4 linked regions of the Homo sapiens genome follow. The protein of the gene in region 1 interacts with the protein of each later gene in a pairwise test. Each region holds a gene or a part of one and is shown on either strand. Other genes may lie near its edges.

Region 1 (3,989 bases):
ATACAAAGTCATTAGTTTTCTGGATGTTTTCATTTTCTCTTTTTTCTACTTCTGGCAGTATCAGTTTTTTTTTTGGTTAGGGTCTTTTTTTTTCCACAAAGATTTAAAGTTAAAAAACCCCTCACAAAAATCTTCATAGGAGTTGCCTTATAGGTGATGGGAAGAAGAAAACAACAAAGGTTGAGCTGTGGATACCACGCAGAGTGACCAGCTGGGTTCACTCCTTTGATAAGACTCACATACTCTGTCTCTTATCAAGTGGGCTGTTCTGAGCCCTGCTTCAGGAAAATTACAAAGATCAGCTTTTGAGGTGGATCCTCAAAATTCCAAACCAGGTAAATAAATCTATGCAAAATAATAGCTAATATTTACTGAGTGTTTTTGTGTGCCAGGCATTGTGCTAAGTGCTTTACATGGATCATCTTACTTAATACTCAGAACCACCTTATGATGTAGGTACTATTATCCTCATTTTAGAGATGGGGAAACTGAGGCTTAGGACAGATTGAAGATGATGGAACCCTTGAGGATGCCAAGAATCTAATTGTAATTGCTAAATGTAATTGCTTAAAATACACATTGGCAGAAAGTGTTAATACTCACCTGTAAATAAATTAGTGACATTCTTTCTTTGCCAACAGTGGGCAATTCTGAACTGGATGCTTTTTTGGGATGGAGTTTGGAGAGTGGGTTGGGAGATGACATTAGTAGGCTGATGAATATTCCAGCCAGTTCTTTTCATTTGGGTGGTGATGGTGTCATTCCAATGAACGCTTAGTTCATTTGCATGAGCAATGCAGACATCCTTGCTAAACTCAAAATTAGATTTCAGAGCCAAAACAGTGAATTTGGTACAAAGTAGTGGTGACTGAGGAACTGAAAGCCAGATGCTGTCAGCTGCCTTTGGAGTCCCTAATCCAGAACAGCTTCTTTCATCACCATCCCTCCTCCCCATACCCTGTCTTCCCTCCCCACCCCCAGTGCCTGGTACCTGCAGTTTGGACTGAAGCACGTGGAGTTGGCTCTCCAGCTCCCTGTGCTGGGTCCCAAGGGTCCTCCAGTCCTCCTTCAGAGCCTCATACTGGCTCCTCCACTCTTCACACTTCTGCTCTGCCAGGGCCAGGGATCGCTGAGGGAGATCAGAGAGGAGAGGGCTCCAGGGAGTTGTGCAGCTGGCTCCCCTTGTTCCCCAAGCTGCCTGGAGTCCCCAGCCCCATGTCTATGTGGCATCCCCATACCTGTGTGCTCTGTAGTTGCTGCTCTGCATTCATTTTCTCCTCCAGCACTTTCTGCAGTGACTCCTTGGCCTTCTGCTCATAGCTGTTTTTCTGGTCTTCCATCTCCAGTAGTACTTTTTTCATTCCCCAAGGGGAGTATTTCTGTAAATTTGATGCAATTCAACAAATACACATTGAGCTTCTGTGTGCCAAATCCTGAGCTGGGATACAGAAATGAAAAGAAGTTGGTTCTTCCCCCAGGCAGAGATACCAGTAATCTAGTGAGCCATTTCTTTTAGGGTAGAGCTAGCAAGAAGAGTCCCTCAGGCAATGAGAGATGAGTGGAGGGCATAATAAACAGTGCCCTAGGCTTCCTGGGCATTATATCTGAGGCCTTCTGCAAGCTCTTGGAATCCAAGATGTCTAAACAGGACTCATCTTTCTAAACATGTTCTTTTTTCTTGGGGTTCCTATCTCAGTGACCAGAATCATCATCCATCCAGGCTTTTCCAAACCCTAAACCAGGGAGTCAATCTTCATTTTCTCTCTCACTTCCTCCCCCTCTAATCAGTTGGTCATTGAGCCTTGACAATTTCCTTAACAGCTCATATCTGTCTCCTCTCTATCCCTACTGCTGCTTCCTTAGTTCAGGCTCTAGTAGTAGTGTTATGTGGATTAATGCAACAGCCTCCCTTTCTTCAAATCTTGCCTCCCTTCAGTCCCTTTTCAGTTCTGCATTTAGAGGGTTCTTTCTAAAATGCAAATCTGATCTTGCCACTTCCTGTATAAATCTCTCCATGGATTCTCAGCATACTAAGAATCACATCCAAACTCCTTGTCATGGCTCCTCTTACACGCCTAGACTTTCATCCCATGCTACTTCCACCTAAGCTGAGATGTTTGCAGATCCCCCAGCACTCTGTTTTTTGGGGCTCTGCCTTTACCCATGTAGCTTCTTCTGCCTACAGCCAGTTAACTTCTACTAATACTCAAGATTCAGTCCAGTATCATCAGTTCTGATAAATTGACCAACTACCCCCATCCCACAATGTCTTATGGATTAGGTAGCTTTTCTTAGGGTTCATGGTGTTCACATAGTATCCCCTGCATGCCTCTATTATTCTACTCTATTGACTCATCTGTCTTTCATACTGGATTGTAAACTCCTTCAGGGAGGGAGCATACTGCTGCTGCTTTAAAAAAAAATCATTGTAGCTTCTTTACAATGCCTAATGAACTTCATGTTTTAAAATTAATACATTTGCATTATAAAATTCCTCCTGGCTGCAGGATTAAGGAGACACAAGCGCAGCTTTGCAAATTCACTGGGGGTCTTGCCTTCTCCCTTTCTTTCATCTTTATGCCCTGTGATTTCGGAGAAGGCAGGCAGATTTTATTGTCAATTCTGGATTACCTACTGTGTAAGCAGTAGACCAGATGACAACAATTTAGGGATCAATATGAAATCATTTCCATTTAGCTTTGGAATTGTCTGAAATTTTGGATTTAAATTTGAGTGGGTCTTATAGTTTTGGAACTTTCATTAAAAACCAGATCCAGGAATTAACCTGGTTGAGGTCATATGTAGGGGATGTCCCAGTTATTGGACATCCAATGACCATCCATGCTGGGCACTGGTTATGTGTTATTCCCTATTGAAAATGAATAGACTGGCATTCTGGATTATATATTAGTCTCCTGTGAACTTGGTTGGCATTATTTAGTCCTGACAAAGCAAGTTATACTGAAAAAATGAAAGTTGTGGACCAAGAAACTTATAGACTCCATAAACTCTCTTCCCCTGTAAGACGCCATCAATGTGGCCAGGACTGTCTTCTCTCTCTAACTCCAGATGGGAGAATTCTGCCTGTTTCACCCCATTCTCTGATTTGATATCTTCCCACCTGTCAGGTATCCATCACTTCTCAAATGTGAAAGCTGATTTCTTTCTATCTCTTATAAACCAAGATTAGGCCAATCAAGAGATTACTAATGCTGGAAAATGGTGTTACAGAAGAGCCAAGTAAAAGAGCTTTTACATTCTTCCAGGGGTTGCTAGAAAAAACAGAAAAAAGTTACCCATGGAATGAAAATAATTTTGTAAGACTTCATTATAACATCTAACTCATCTGTTCAAAGATTAGGATGCGTAAAGGGCTGTCTGGGTGATGTGAGTCTTTACCAAGGGCCTTCCCCTACAGTGTCAGGTATTCTCAAGGTTCCCCTGGAGCTGACAAACTGGTTAGTGCTGGGATTCCTCCAGGGTGCAAAGAGAAGGATACTGGGAGAAAGGGAGAGGAAGAAGGATGGAGACAGTGATCTAGTGAATTAGAGACTAAAGTGTAAATGGCCAAGCCAGAAATGGGTAAGTAGGAATGGGTGTGTTATTCTCTATCTGGTGGTGTTTCTCGAAAGTAAGATTGAGGTTCAAAAACATTCTTCTCATTTAATTCTAGATTCCTGAGATGGAAGTATCCTTCAGAATGCTTACCTGGGTACAGGTGTATAGCTGGTTTTCTAAGGATCTCAGTTTCCCCTTCAGTTTGTCTTCATTAAGCTGTCCCTGGAGCAAATGGGATGAGTTAATGAGCTTGGGGCAAAATCTAGTCTGCAAAGAGTTTGACTCTATATTCCTATTCTACTGCCCAGCACATGGTTGGTGCTCAAACAGTGAACTCTTTCAGGAGGCAGGCAGGAGCAAAGATGACAAAGGATGCTGGATAGAAGAGGATCTTCTCCTGTTTCTCTGGACTAGGACAAGAAAGAATAAGA
Region 2 (3,840 bases), on another chromosome or scaffold:
CAGGAAAAAATTTAAAACATAGTCCTTCCTCAAGGAACTTAAAATTTCGTTGAGAAAACGAAGTTCACAAACAATAAGCTATTAGTAAAAAATGAACAAAATAAGTTAATGAAGCTCAAACAATAAATGTAAATGGTGTATAAAGAAGGAAAAGCATGGCTGGGAGCAGTGGCTCACACCTGTAATCCCAGCACTTTGGGAGGCCCAGGTGGGTGGATCACCTGAGGTTAGGAGTTCGAGACCAGCCTGGCCAATGTGGTAAAACCCCATCTTTACTAAAAATACAAAAAAAAAAAAAAAAATTAGCCGGCCATGGTGGTGGGTGCCTATAATCCCAGCTACTTGGGAGGCTGAGGCTAGAGAATCACTTGAACCTGGGAGGCGGAGGTTGCAGTAAGCTGAGATCGCGCCATTGCACTCCAACCTGGGCGACAAGAGCAAAACTCCATCTCAAAAAAAAAAAAAAAGAAAAAGAAAAGAAGGAAAAGCATATTCCAGGTCAGAAGTCCCAGGGGGCTTCATAGTGGACATGGATCAGAAGCTGGATAAAAGATTGGTAGAATAGGCCAGGTGTGGTGGCTCATGCCTGTAATCCCAGCACTTTGGGAGGTCAAGGTGGACGGTTCACAAGGTCAGGAGTTCGAGACCAGCTTGGCCAACATGGTGAAACCCCATCTCTATTAAAAATACAAAAAAATTTAGCCAGGCCTGGTGGTGCGTGCCTGTAATCCCAGCTACTCAGGAGGCTGAGGCAGGAGAGTCGCTTAAACCCGGGAGGCGGAGGTTGCAATGAGCCAAGATTGCGTCACTGTACTGCAGCCTGGGCAACAGAGCAAGACTCCATCTCAAAAAAAAAAAAAAAAAAGGCCAGGTGCGGTGGCTCACACCTGTAATCCCAACACTTTGGGAGGCCAAGGCGGGTGGATCATGAGGTCAGGAGATCAAGATGGAGACCATCCTGACTAACATGGTGAAACCCCTTCTCTACTCAAAATACAAAAAATTTAGCTGGGCCTGGTGGCGGGTGCCTGTAGTCCTAGCTACTCAGGAGGCTGAGGCAGGAGAATGGTGTGAACCCGGGAGGCGGAGCTTGCAGTGAGCCAAGATCACACCACTGCACTCCAGCCTGGGCGACAGAGCAAGACTCTGCCTCAATTAAAAAAAAAAAAACAAAAAAAAATTGGTATAATAAATATACAGAAAAGAGGCAAGAAACTAAGAGTCAAACAGCAGGAACAAAGGCACAGAAACAGGAATTAACATGACACAGAAAGGCAGGTGGGAAGGCAAAAGTAAGCAAAACAATCAGCCTGAAATACAATTTGGGTCAGGAGATAGTGGGAGACAAAGGTAGCTAGAGCCATTCTATGGAAGACCTTAAAGATGAGACAGCAGAATTCTAACCTGATGTAGTCAGTGAGTCATACAGCCACTCTGAAAATAAGGTTTGAGGAAGTTCAGGCTGGCTTCACAGGAGAACTGACAAAAAGAAATGGAGACCAAGGAAAGGGGACTAGTTAGGGATCTGCCAAGTTCTCTATTCTGCAGTCAGAATGACGTTTTTTTTAATTCGATCAAGTAACTCCTCTGCATGTTGAAGCACTCAATATGATACACTGAAGGAATCAAAGACAACACCAAATTTCTAACCTCAGTCTTAAATAACAGTTGCATGGGCATCATTTATAGGAACCAAGAAGGTAGGAAAGGGATATCGTTTGGAAGAGTTATCAGTTTTGATTGGTTTATGAATAATTTGAGGTAGAAATTACAGTTAAAAGTTGGCCAGATTATGGCTGGTGAGGCAGAGGCAAAGGCAGGAATTATCATGTGCAGCATATTAGAACTGTAGAAGGTTGATACTCAAATTACAGAAGAACAGGCAAGCTCTAGGGAGTCAGCTAAGACACCTATGGGAGGAGCCAACTAAGCCTAACTGGAAATGAACCAGGAAACTGAAAACAAGCAAATAACAAAAACAGTCAGACATTCAGGAGCAAAGGGTGAGGCAGGTAGGCTAGGGCTGGGACCAGATCTTGGGCAGGAACACAGACAGAGTCCCATCCTGGAAAAAAGGCAGAAAAGAAATAAGGAAGTAGCTGTAGAATAACAATGTAGTAGGCACTGTTTTAAGAATTTTAATCAATTTACTCAAACCTCTCAAGAATAAGAGAGACTACTATTATATTCCAAAATTTTCCCCCAAAAAGCATTTTTTTGTAATACGCTTCTCATCCTCCTTTCTGACATATGACCTTTTCCCCATTCAACTAAAGGCATAGGCTGCCTCAAGGAAAATTATGGTTGTTAAAGGGAAAAAAGGTCATTTACTATTCAGCTTCAAACCTCAAAACTGATGTGTGTGTATGTGTGTGTATGTGTGTAATAAAACGACAATTTTGAGGACTTTTTCTACATTCTAACAGCTCCTTTTATTTATCAAGAGCTTGACGTGCCACAGCTGGACCACATAGCTTTAGTATGAGCTACAGTTTGCAAGAATCCAAGTTTAGGAGCCAAGCACAGTGGTGCACACCTGTAGTTTCAGCTACTCAGAAGGCTTAAACAGGAGGACCTTCACTTGAGACCAGGAGTTCCTGGCTGTGGTGTGCTATGATCACACCTATGAATAGCTACTGCATTCTAGCCTGGGCAATGTAGTAAGACCCCATCTCTTTAAAAGACAAAGAGAGAGAGAATAATAATCAAAGTTAAGAGACATGCCCTGTACTGAGGAAAGAGAAATAAGGACTTTTCTGATAAAAGAGGAAATAAAAGGGTGTCTGTGTGTGTGTGTGTGTGTGTGTGTGTGTGTATGTGTGGTGGATCTCCCTTGTTCTAAGATGAACTGTGTTTCCCCCAAATTCACATGTTGAAGTCCCAGCCTCCAGGATCTCAGAATGTAACTGTATTTGGAGACAAGGTCTTTAAAGTGCTTAAGTTACAGTGGGTCTAATCCAATATGACTCGTATCCTTTTAAGAAGAGGAAAAGACACCAAGGATGTGTGCATACAGAGGGACTATCATGTCACAATAAAGCAGCAAGAAGGTTGCCATCTGCAAGCCAAGGAGAGAAGTTCAGAGAAAAACAACCCTGCTGGCACCTTGGTCTTAGACTTCCAACCTTCAAAAATGTGAGAAAATAAATTTCTGCTGTTTAAGCCACCTAGTCTGTGGCATTTTGTTATGGCAGCCCTAGCAAACTAATACACCCCTCCAGGCTGAAACCCTTTAGAGGGAAGTTTAAAAAATCAGAAAGTTTGAGGGAATCTCAGAGAAGTGGGGGTTGTTTCTCACTTCTTTGGACAAGACAGGAGCAACTTAAAGCTCCCTTAAAGAATTTCCATGTTCAAGGCCGGATGTGGTGGGTCATGCCTGTAATCCAGCACTTTGGGAGGCCAAGGTGGGCAGATCACTTGAGGTCAGGAGTTAAAGACCAGCCTGGCCAACATGGTGAAACCCTGTCTCTACTAAAAAATCAAAAATTAGCCAGGCATGGTGGCATGCACCTGTAGTCTCAGCTACTCAGGAGGATGAGGCAGGAGAATCACTTCAGCCCGGCGGGTGGAGGTTGAAGTGAGCTGAGACTGCGCCACTGCGCTCCAGCCTGGGTGACAGAGTGAGGCTCCATCTCAGAAAAAAAAAAAAAAAGGAATTTATGTGTTTAGTAACCCAGGTAACAGACTGGAAGTGACAGAATGGCATAATAATGTGAAAGAAACCAAATATCACCTTTCTGATTCCTCTGGAGAAAGGATTCCTTGATTTCCAAAGATAACCTTATAGTAGCAACGAGCATATCTGCCAAGCAGACCTTGGTTTCTTTTTTTTTTTTTGTG
Region 3 (3,840 bases), on another chromosome or scaffold:
CACTACTCCAGCCTGAGCAACAGAGCAAGACCCTCTCTCAAAAAAAAAAAAAAATTGCCAACCAGCTGCAGTGGCTCATGCCTGTAATCCCAGCATGTTGGAGGCTGAGGCACGTGAATCACTTGAGACTAGGAATTTGACAACAGCCTGGCCAACATGGTGAAACCCTGTCTCTACTAAAAATACAAAAATTAGCTGGTCGTGGTTGTACATGCCTGTAATCCCAGCTACTCCGGAGGCTGAGGCAGGAGAATCACTTGAACCCTGGAGGCAGAGGTTGCAGTGAGCCAACATCACACCAGCCTGGACGACACAGTGAGACTCTGTCTCATAAATAAATAAATAAATAAATAGTGCTAAAATACACAAAACATGAAATTTGCCCTCTTTTTCTTTTTTTCTTTGAGATGGAATTTCACTCTTGTTGCCTAGGCTGGAGTGCAGTGGCGCGATCTCGGCTCACTGCAACCTCTGCCTCATGGGTTCAAGCAATTATCCTGCCTCAGCCTCCCAAGTAGCTGGGATTACAGGCATCTGCCACCACGCCCAGCTAATTTTTGTATTTTTAGTAGAGATGGGGTTTCTCCATGTTGGTCAGACTGGTCTTGAACTCCTGACCTCAGGTAATCCACCCACCTTGGCCTCCCAAAGTGCAGGGATTACAGGCATGAGCCACCGCGCCCAGCCTCCTCTTAACCACTTTTTCTTTCTTGAGATGGAGTCTCGCTCCGTCACCAGGCTGGAGTGCAATGATGCGATGTCAGCACACTTCAACCTCTGACTCCCTGGTTCAAGCGATTCTCCTGCCTCAGCCTCCCGAGTAGCTGGGATTACAGGCACGCGCCACCATGCCTGGCTCATTTTTGTATTTTTAATAGAGACAAGGTTTCACCACGTTGGTAAGGCTAGTCTTGAACTCCTGACATCAGGTAATCCCACCTGCCTCGGCCTCCCAAATTGCTGGGACTACAGGTGCCTGCCACCATGCCCAGCTAATTTTTTTTTGTATTTTTAGTAGAGACGGGGTTTCACCGTGTTACCCAGGATGGTCTCGATCTCCTGACCTTGTGATCCACCCGCCTTGGCCTCCCAAAGTGCTGGGATTACAGGCGTGAGCCACCGCGCCCTGGCCCTCTTAACCATTTTTAAGTGTGCTGCTGAGTGTTGTACATTTACACTGATGTGCATTCAATCTGCAGAACTCTTCATCTTGCAAAACAAACTCGATACCCATTAAACAATTCCCTATTTTCCCCTTTCCTCTCAATGATAACCTTCTCCAATTAAAAATTTTTGAGTGGCCGGGTGCAGTAGCTCACGCCTGTAATCCCAGCACTTTGGGAGGCCGAGGCAGGCAGATCACCTGAGGTCAGGAGTTCAAGACCAGCCTGGCCAACATGGTCAAACCGCATCTCTACTAAAAATACAAAAATTATTTTTTTGTATTTTTACCACCACCTGCGTGGTCATGGGTGCCTGTAGTCCCAGCTACTCGGGAGACTGAGGCAGGAGAATCACTTAAACCTGGGAGGTGAAGATTGTAGTGAGCCGAGATCGCGCCACTGCACTCCAGCCTGGGCGACAGAGCGAGACTGTCTCAAATAAATAAAAATAAATAAATAAAATGGTGCCAGATGACTGAATCTACCAGAGCCAGCACTGAACAGAGGAAAGACAACAGTTTATTAGTCACACAGACTCACAGGGAAGGTGTCCCCATATGCCAAGAGGGTCACATGAAGCTACAGAGACTGTTGGGGGGGGCGGGCTGTGTAGTAACAAGAGGGTGGGGTGCCTCCTGGCTCCTTCAAAAGGATGTTCTTTGCTTTCATGAATCATTTCATGGACTAGCAACCAGCAGGGAGGTGAAAACTTATCAGAGTGAGGACCAGATGGGGTGCCGCTGGCTCAGCTGATGGGAGAACTAGCCAGGTGGGAAGACTTTCTCATGGAGTGAGAGCAAAGGAACTCACACTTAGGACTTTGGGGGGCCTTCTGAGGACCAAAGATGCCAAGGAAGGACTCGATGTGTAGAATCTTATGATATATCCAAACGAAGGCCTTTTTTGGGCTGGGCACGATGGCCCATACCACTATTTCCAACACTTCAAGAGGCCAAGGTCGAAAGACTGCTTGAAGCTAGGAGTTCCAGACCAGCCTGGGTAACATACTGAGACCTAATCTCTACCAAAAAAAAAAAAAAAAATTAAAATATTTTTAAGAGACAGAGTCGCCAGGCGCAGTGGCTCACGCCTGTAATCCCAGCACTTTGGGAGGCCGAGTTGGGTGGATCACGAGGTCAGGAGTTCAAGACCAGCCTGACCCACATGGTGAAACCCTGTCTCTACTAAAAATACAAAATAAATTATCCGGGCGTGGTGACACATGCCTGTAGTCCCAGCTACTCAGGAGGCTGAGGCAGGAGAATCACTTGAACCCGGGAGGCAGAGGTTGCAGTGAGCCAAGATTGTGCCACTGCACTCCAGCCTGGGCAACAGAGCCAGACTCCGTCTCGAAAAGAAAAAAGAAAAGATAATGGATGAGATGTGGCCCAGAGCTGACAAGGGAGGAGTCCAGACTGACTCAGAACTTCCCAGTCAAAAAGATTGGTTGGTGCCAGGTGCAGTGGCTCACATCTGTAAACCCAGCACTTTGGGAGGCCAAGGCAGGTGGATCACAAGGTCAGGAGTTCAAGACCAGCCTGGCCAACATAGTGAAACCCCGTCTCTACTAAAAATACAAAAATTAGCCAGGCATTGTGGCGCACACCTGTAATGCCAGCTACTCGTGAGGCTGAGGCAGGAGAATCGCTTGAATTCAGGAGGTGGAGGTTGTGGTGAGCCGAGATCATGCCACTGCATTCCAGCCTGGGCAACAGAGCAAGACTCCGTCTCAAAAAAAAAAAAAAAAAAAAAGACTGATTGGATGGATGGAGGTGCCAATGACCATGAGGGGGACCCAGGGAGGAGGGTGCGCTACAAGGAACAAGGGATGAGCTATTTCCCACACACGGCCTATGCAGTCACTACTGAACATTCTGGGGTGCGGGTGACCAGGGAGTTATGCAGGCATTTCGACGTAATCGCAGCTAATATGACGCGGTGCTACTAGCCAGATGCGTGCTAGCTCATCTTCCACAATTTCTCTTCCAGATACCCCACCTGGTGGCCCGTCCTCACTTGGGAACCAGTCAACATGCCTTCTGGAAGTCTCTCTTGTCACTCCAAGAAAAGGTGAGCCTCAAGCCATGTACCTACATGTATTCATCTACACAGAGCAGCTGACCCCACGGAGTGTAGGCCAACCACAAACGCGTGATTGAGGAATTCGTGGGGTGGATTAATGACACCATCAAAGGGGCAGTTTCCTCCTGTGTTTCAACTCATCAACCTTTCCACGTCAGCATTTTGTCCTGACACGTGTCATCTCCTGGCTGAAAGATGGCTACCAAACCATCTCATACACGCAGGGGCAACAAGGAAGGCTAAGAGGCCAGGTACAGTGGCTCACGCCTGTAATCCCAGCACTTTGGGAGGCCAAAGCGGGCAGATCACCTGAGGTCAGGAGTTCAAGACCAGCCCGGACAACATGGCAAAACCCCGTCTCTACTAAAAATACAAAATTAGCAGGGTGTGGTGGAGCATACCTGTAGTCCCAGCTACTCAGAGGCTGAGGCAGAAGAATCACTTGAACCTGGGAGGTAGAGGTTGCAGTGAGCCAAGATTGCACCACTGCACTCCAGCCTGGGCAACAGAGTGAGACTCCATCTCTTAAAAAAAAAGCAAAGAAAGGAAGGGTAAAGGCCTTCTTCCTCCCTGTTACCAGTCACATCCACGTAAC
Region 4 (3,840 bases), on another chromosome or scaffold:
TAATGGGATAGAGGGGAAGGCAACACGTCTTATTTTATCAAAAATTGCAAAGCTACACGCTCTTTGTGGAGAAGCACCAAAAGGAAAACCTTAGTTTGGAAGGATTCATTGTAAATAAAAATAGTAACTCAGCCCTCCATTCAGGGAGGAGAAAGGCATTTTAAAGCTAGTATATTGAAGGTTTCCCCCTTGACTTCAGTGTTGAATGGCTCTTGCAAGGACTTCTTGAAGGTTTTTTTTCTCACTAGCCAGTGTTTGGCCGACAGGTTGCACCTCTGCCTGAGAAGATGCCTGAAAGAGAAAAGGCAGCATTTGTTACAGGCATAATGTTGTAGAGGAAGAAACGACAACAGCAGTCCCCTGCATTCATTTTAGAACCAAGATGACGTCTCACAGTTGCTCTGATAAAAACACAGGGACTCCCTGCTCTTAGCATACCTATAGTGCTCACCTAGAAAATCTATGAGTTAAGCACTACAAACATTTTGTTGTAGGAGCGACGTACGACAGTCCAATTGCAGAATTATGAAAAGCATTGGCAGTAGCAACTCTGTGGTGGACACACCCACCTTTGCTCTCCTAGCTCCTTTTCTGTCATTCTGTTTGACTTTCTCAAGGGAGCAAAAGAAAGTTGTACTACCAGTTAAGTCTCCAAGGTGTCTTTAACCCCTCCATCCCCCTAGCCTTTTTGGAAGGGAGTGGTGTGGGAGATATGTGGAGACCCTTTGTGCAGGGCAGGGGTGGTGGTGCAAAGTTATCAGTAACTCTGGGTTTCTCTAAGCACTTGGTGCTGTCAGAGATGCTTGGAGATGGAGTACCAAATGAGCTGGGGAGAAGATCCTGCAGAACAGGGGTGGCCAGGTCATGGCCCCATACTGGAAAAGTGTACCTGTGCAGAAATAAAGTAGGTGTACAGATAAGTTGTGCTGCTCTTGTCTTGGGATGGCAGGGTTGGTGGTGAAGAAAGTGCCATAGAAATGGCAGCACAGAGGCACCCTCATCCTCAGCAGGCAGCAGGGGTGAACAGTAATGGAAAGCACCGCAGTGAGCCTTCATCATCATAGGAAGACCAGCAACTCCTTTTTTAGTACCATTGGCTGTCTTCTTCCAGTATCTCATTTGTTTAAATAATAGTTCTTGGCTCAACAAGCTTCTAAGTAGTGGCCAACTGTTACAGCAGGGTTGGTGGGCAAATTTTCTTTTTGAGTTCCTCCACTTACCAGGTTAAACCCCTTCACATGGGTGCTCCATTGCCGCCATGGGCTTTTTGTCAGGGATAAGGGTGCAGCCAGCCAGCATGTCCAGAGAGGCCAAGATAGAGTCATACAGGCGATCTGCGTGGCTCTCCAGCTCACCAGACTGCTTTGCGATCCTCCCAAGGACATCCTCTAAAACTAACAATGAGGTTCAAAGAAATTAAACCAGAAATAAAACCCATGCAAGTGTTGTCCAGTAAGCATTTTCAAAAGAACATACAAGGGTATAGTATTTTACACAAAGTAGGACCTGGCAGTAGTTTCTGAATGTCTGCCCTTTTTTAACAGTGATTCTCCAGGGACTTCTGTTGCACTGGAGAACCTATGTTGTTAACTTCTGATTAAAGCTAAGAAAAGAACTCACTGACTCCACTTTGAAATTACGTAATTCACAGAAGGGCACAGAGATATTATGGTTTTCTGATGGCTGGTATTACCTGACTTTAGAGGTAAGACAGGTATCTCTGTAAGGGCACATCCAGATCCTCTTGGGCATAAGGCTTAAATAAAACGACATGCCAAGGTTCAGATGCTTACCCCTGCTACCAGGTCTATCAGTTTCTATTGGCTGGGAAGAATGTTATTTCACATGGGTGGTCTGTAATAGATTTGGGAGTGCTTGAGACCCTTTGTTTTGTGGGCCTCAGTGAACAGACTGAAAAAGAAAATGACCTGGCCAGGCGCAGTGGCTCACGCCTGTAATCCCAACAACACTTTGGGAGGCCAAGGCGGATGGATTGCCTGAGGTCAGGAGTTGGAGACCAGCCTGACCAACATGGAGAAACCCCGTCTCTACTAAAAATATAAAAAAATTAGCCGGGTGTGGTGGCGCATGCCTGTAATCCCAGCTACACGGGAGGCTGAGGCAGAATGGCTTGAACCCGGGAGGCAGAGGTTGTGGTGAGCCAAGACTGTGCCATCGCACTCCAGCCTGGGCAACAAGAGTGCAACTCTGTCTCAAAAACAAAACAAAACAAAAAAATGACCCGAAAGCAGTCTAAGGGAAGATTCACTCCCGCAGTGTCAGAATTGTTGTTCATGTGAGGAAGGGATGGGCTAGGGTCAGAGTGCATCTCACACAGCAGGCTTTTTTCTTTCTTTTTTCAAAAATTTATTTTTGTTAAGCACAAAGGCTGTCTTAGTTTCCTGCACCTTTATCAGCTGTGCTTATACTCTCCCTAGTTTCCTGCCACAGCTGTAACATCTGTCAGTAGAGGAAGGGAAAGAGGAAGCTTATCTGCAGACAATGCTGACTGGATGAGTAGAAGGAGAAGGAACACAGGCTGGCTGTATTGAGATCTCCTAGGGAAGCCACATCAGTGCGGTGTCATCAGGGCAAAGTGCTGTCCACAAAGAGAGTTGGCAGAGTGTGGCAGAGGATTGCAGTCAGGCGCACGGTAAAGCTTGGCTGTAAGGGTGGCTGGGCTGGGTTCTACCCTCCAGTTTCTTTTTTTTTTTTTTTGAGATGGAGTCTCACTCTGTCACCCAGGCTGGAGTGCAGCGGCACAAATCTCGGCTCACTAAAACCTCCGCCTCCCAGGTTCAAGCGATTCTCCTGCCTCATCCTCCCCAGTAGTTGGAATTACTGGCGCCCACCACCACGCCCGGCTAATATTTGTATTTTTAGTAGAGACAGGGTTTCGTCATGCTGGCCAGGCTGGTCTCGAACTCCTGACCTCAGGTGATCCACCCGCCTTGGCCTCCCAAAGTGCTGGGATTACAGGCATGAGCCACCGCAGCTGGCTAACCCCTCTGGTTTCATTAGACCTTTGCCCAGTCTTCTTGTGCGATGTCACAGAAACATTGGTTCAGGGACAACTTTATGTTTTTGAACTTTTATTTATCTATTTATTTTGAGACGGAGTCTTACTCTTGTTGCCCAGGCTGGAGTACAGTGGCGTGATCTCGGCTCACTGCAACCTCTGCCTCCCGGGTTCAAGCGACTCTCCTGCCCCAGCCTCCTGAGTAGCTGGGATTACAGGCGCCCGCCACCATGCCCAGCTAATTTTTTTACTTTTAGTAGAGATGGGGTTTCGCCATGTTGGCCAGGCTGGTCTTGAACTCCTGCCCTCAGGTGATCTGCCCGCTTGGCCTCCCAAAGTGTTGAGATTACAGGCGTGAGCCACTGCGCACGGACGCTTTTGAACTTTTATTTAGACTGTCAGAATGTTTGGTTGGGGCCAAATAAAAGAAGTTGGGAAGGACTGGAACAAAACATGTTTGTAGGCTGGCTCTATGGACTTTTGACAGCATGCTCCTGGCGGAAGAAAAGTTAAGTTTTGCACCCGCTGGAGACAGACACTGACGTCTCAAGGGGGAAACAGCCACATTCCTGATTATTTCAAGCAGATGGATGGGGAAGGGCTGTGTGTCAATCTGAAAGAGCCTGGATACATATCTGAAAACCAAAGAAAACCCCAAAGCCAGTAAAAAACCTCTTGAGAGAGCAAAGTGGGACTAAGCACAGAAAAGTATTATTAAATTGATTTTAAAATGAAGGTCAAAAAACCTGAAGCTTTTAAGAGGCCTTTTTTTTTTTTGAGAAGGAATTTCGCTCTTGTTGCCCAGGCTGGAGTGCAATGGC

Evidence for each region.
Region 2: the proteins of TRAF3IP3 (region 1) and GOLM2 interact in a two-hybrid assay, tested with the Homo sapiens proteins (one large-scale study listed by BioGRID).
Region 3: the proteins of TRAF3IP3 (region 1) and NLRP12 interact in a two-hybrid assay, tested with the Homo sapiens proteins (one large-scale study listed by IntAct).
Region 4: the proteins of TRAF3IP3 (region 1) and CEP68 interact in binary tests that used the Homo sapiens proteins (3 or more experiments, as listed by UniProt).

What each region holds. Positions count from the first base shown.
Region 1 is NC_000001.11:209,772,739-209,776,727, reverse strand, and holds part of TRAF3IP3 (TRAF3-interacting JNK-activating modulator), read right to left. Parts: intron 3,781-3,989; coding exon 3,709-3,780; intron 1,439-3,708; coding exon of another isoform or gene 1,380-1,438; coding exon 1,239-1,379; intron 1,155-1,238; coding exon of another isoform or gene 1,140-1,154; exon of another isoform or gene 1,130-1,139; coding exon 992-1,129; coding exon of another isoform or gene 604-991; intron 1-603. UniProt on the Homo sapiens protein: Adapter protein that plays essential roles in both innate and adaptive immunity. Plays a crucial role in the regulation of thymocyte development.
Region 2 is NC_000015.10:44,294,893-44,298,732, reverse strand, and holds part of GOLM2 (protein GOLM2), read right to left. Parts: intron 1-3,840.
Region 3 is NC_000019.10:53,814,301-53,818,140, reverse strand, and holds part of NLRP12 (NACHT, LRR and PYD domains-containing protein 12), read left to right. Parts: intron 1-3,152; coding exon 3,153-3,233; intron 3,234-3,840. UniProt on the Homo sapiens protein: Plays an essential role as an potent mitigator of inflammation. Primarily expressed in dendritic cells and macrophages, inhibits both canonical and non-canonical NF-kappa-B and ERK activation pathways.
Region 4 is NC_000002.12:65,080,090-65,083,929, reverse strand, and holds part of CEP68 (centrosomal protein of 68 kDa), read right to left. Parts: intron 3,655-3,840; coding exon of another isoform or gene 3,593-3,654; exon of another isoform or gene 3,080-3,592; intron 1,395-3,079; coding exon 1,225-1,394; 3' UTR 1,221-1,224; intron 292-1,220; 3' UTR 1-291. UniProt on the Homo sapiens protein: Involved in maintenance of centrosome cohesion, probably as part of a linker structure which prevents centrosome splitting. Required for localization of CDK5RAP2 to the centrosome during interphase. Contributes to CROCC/rootletin filament formation.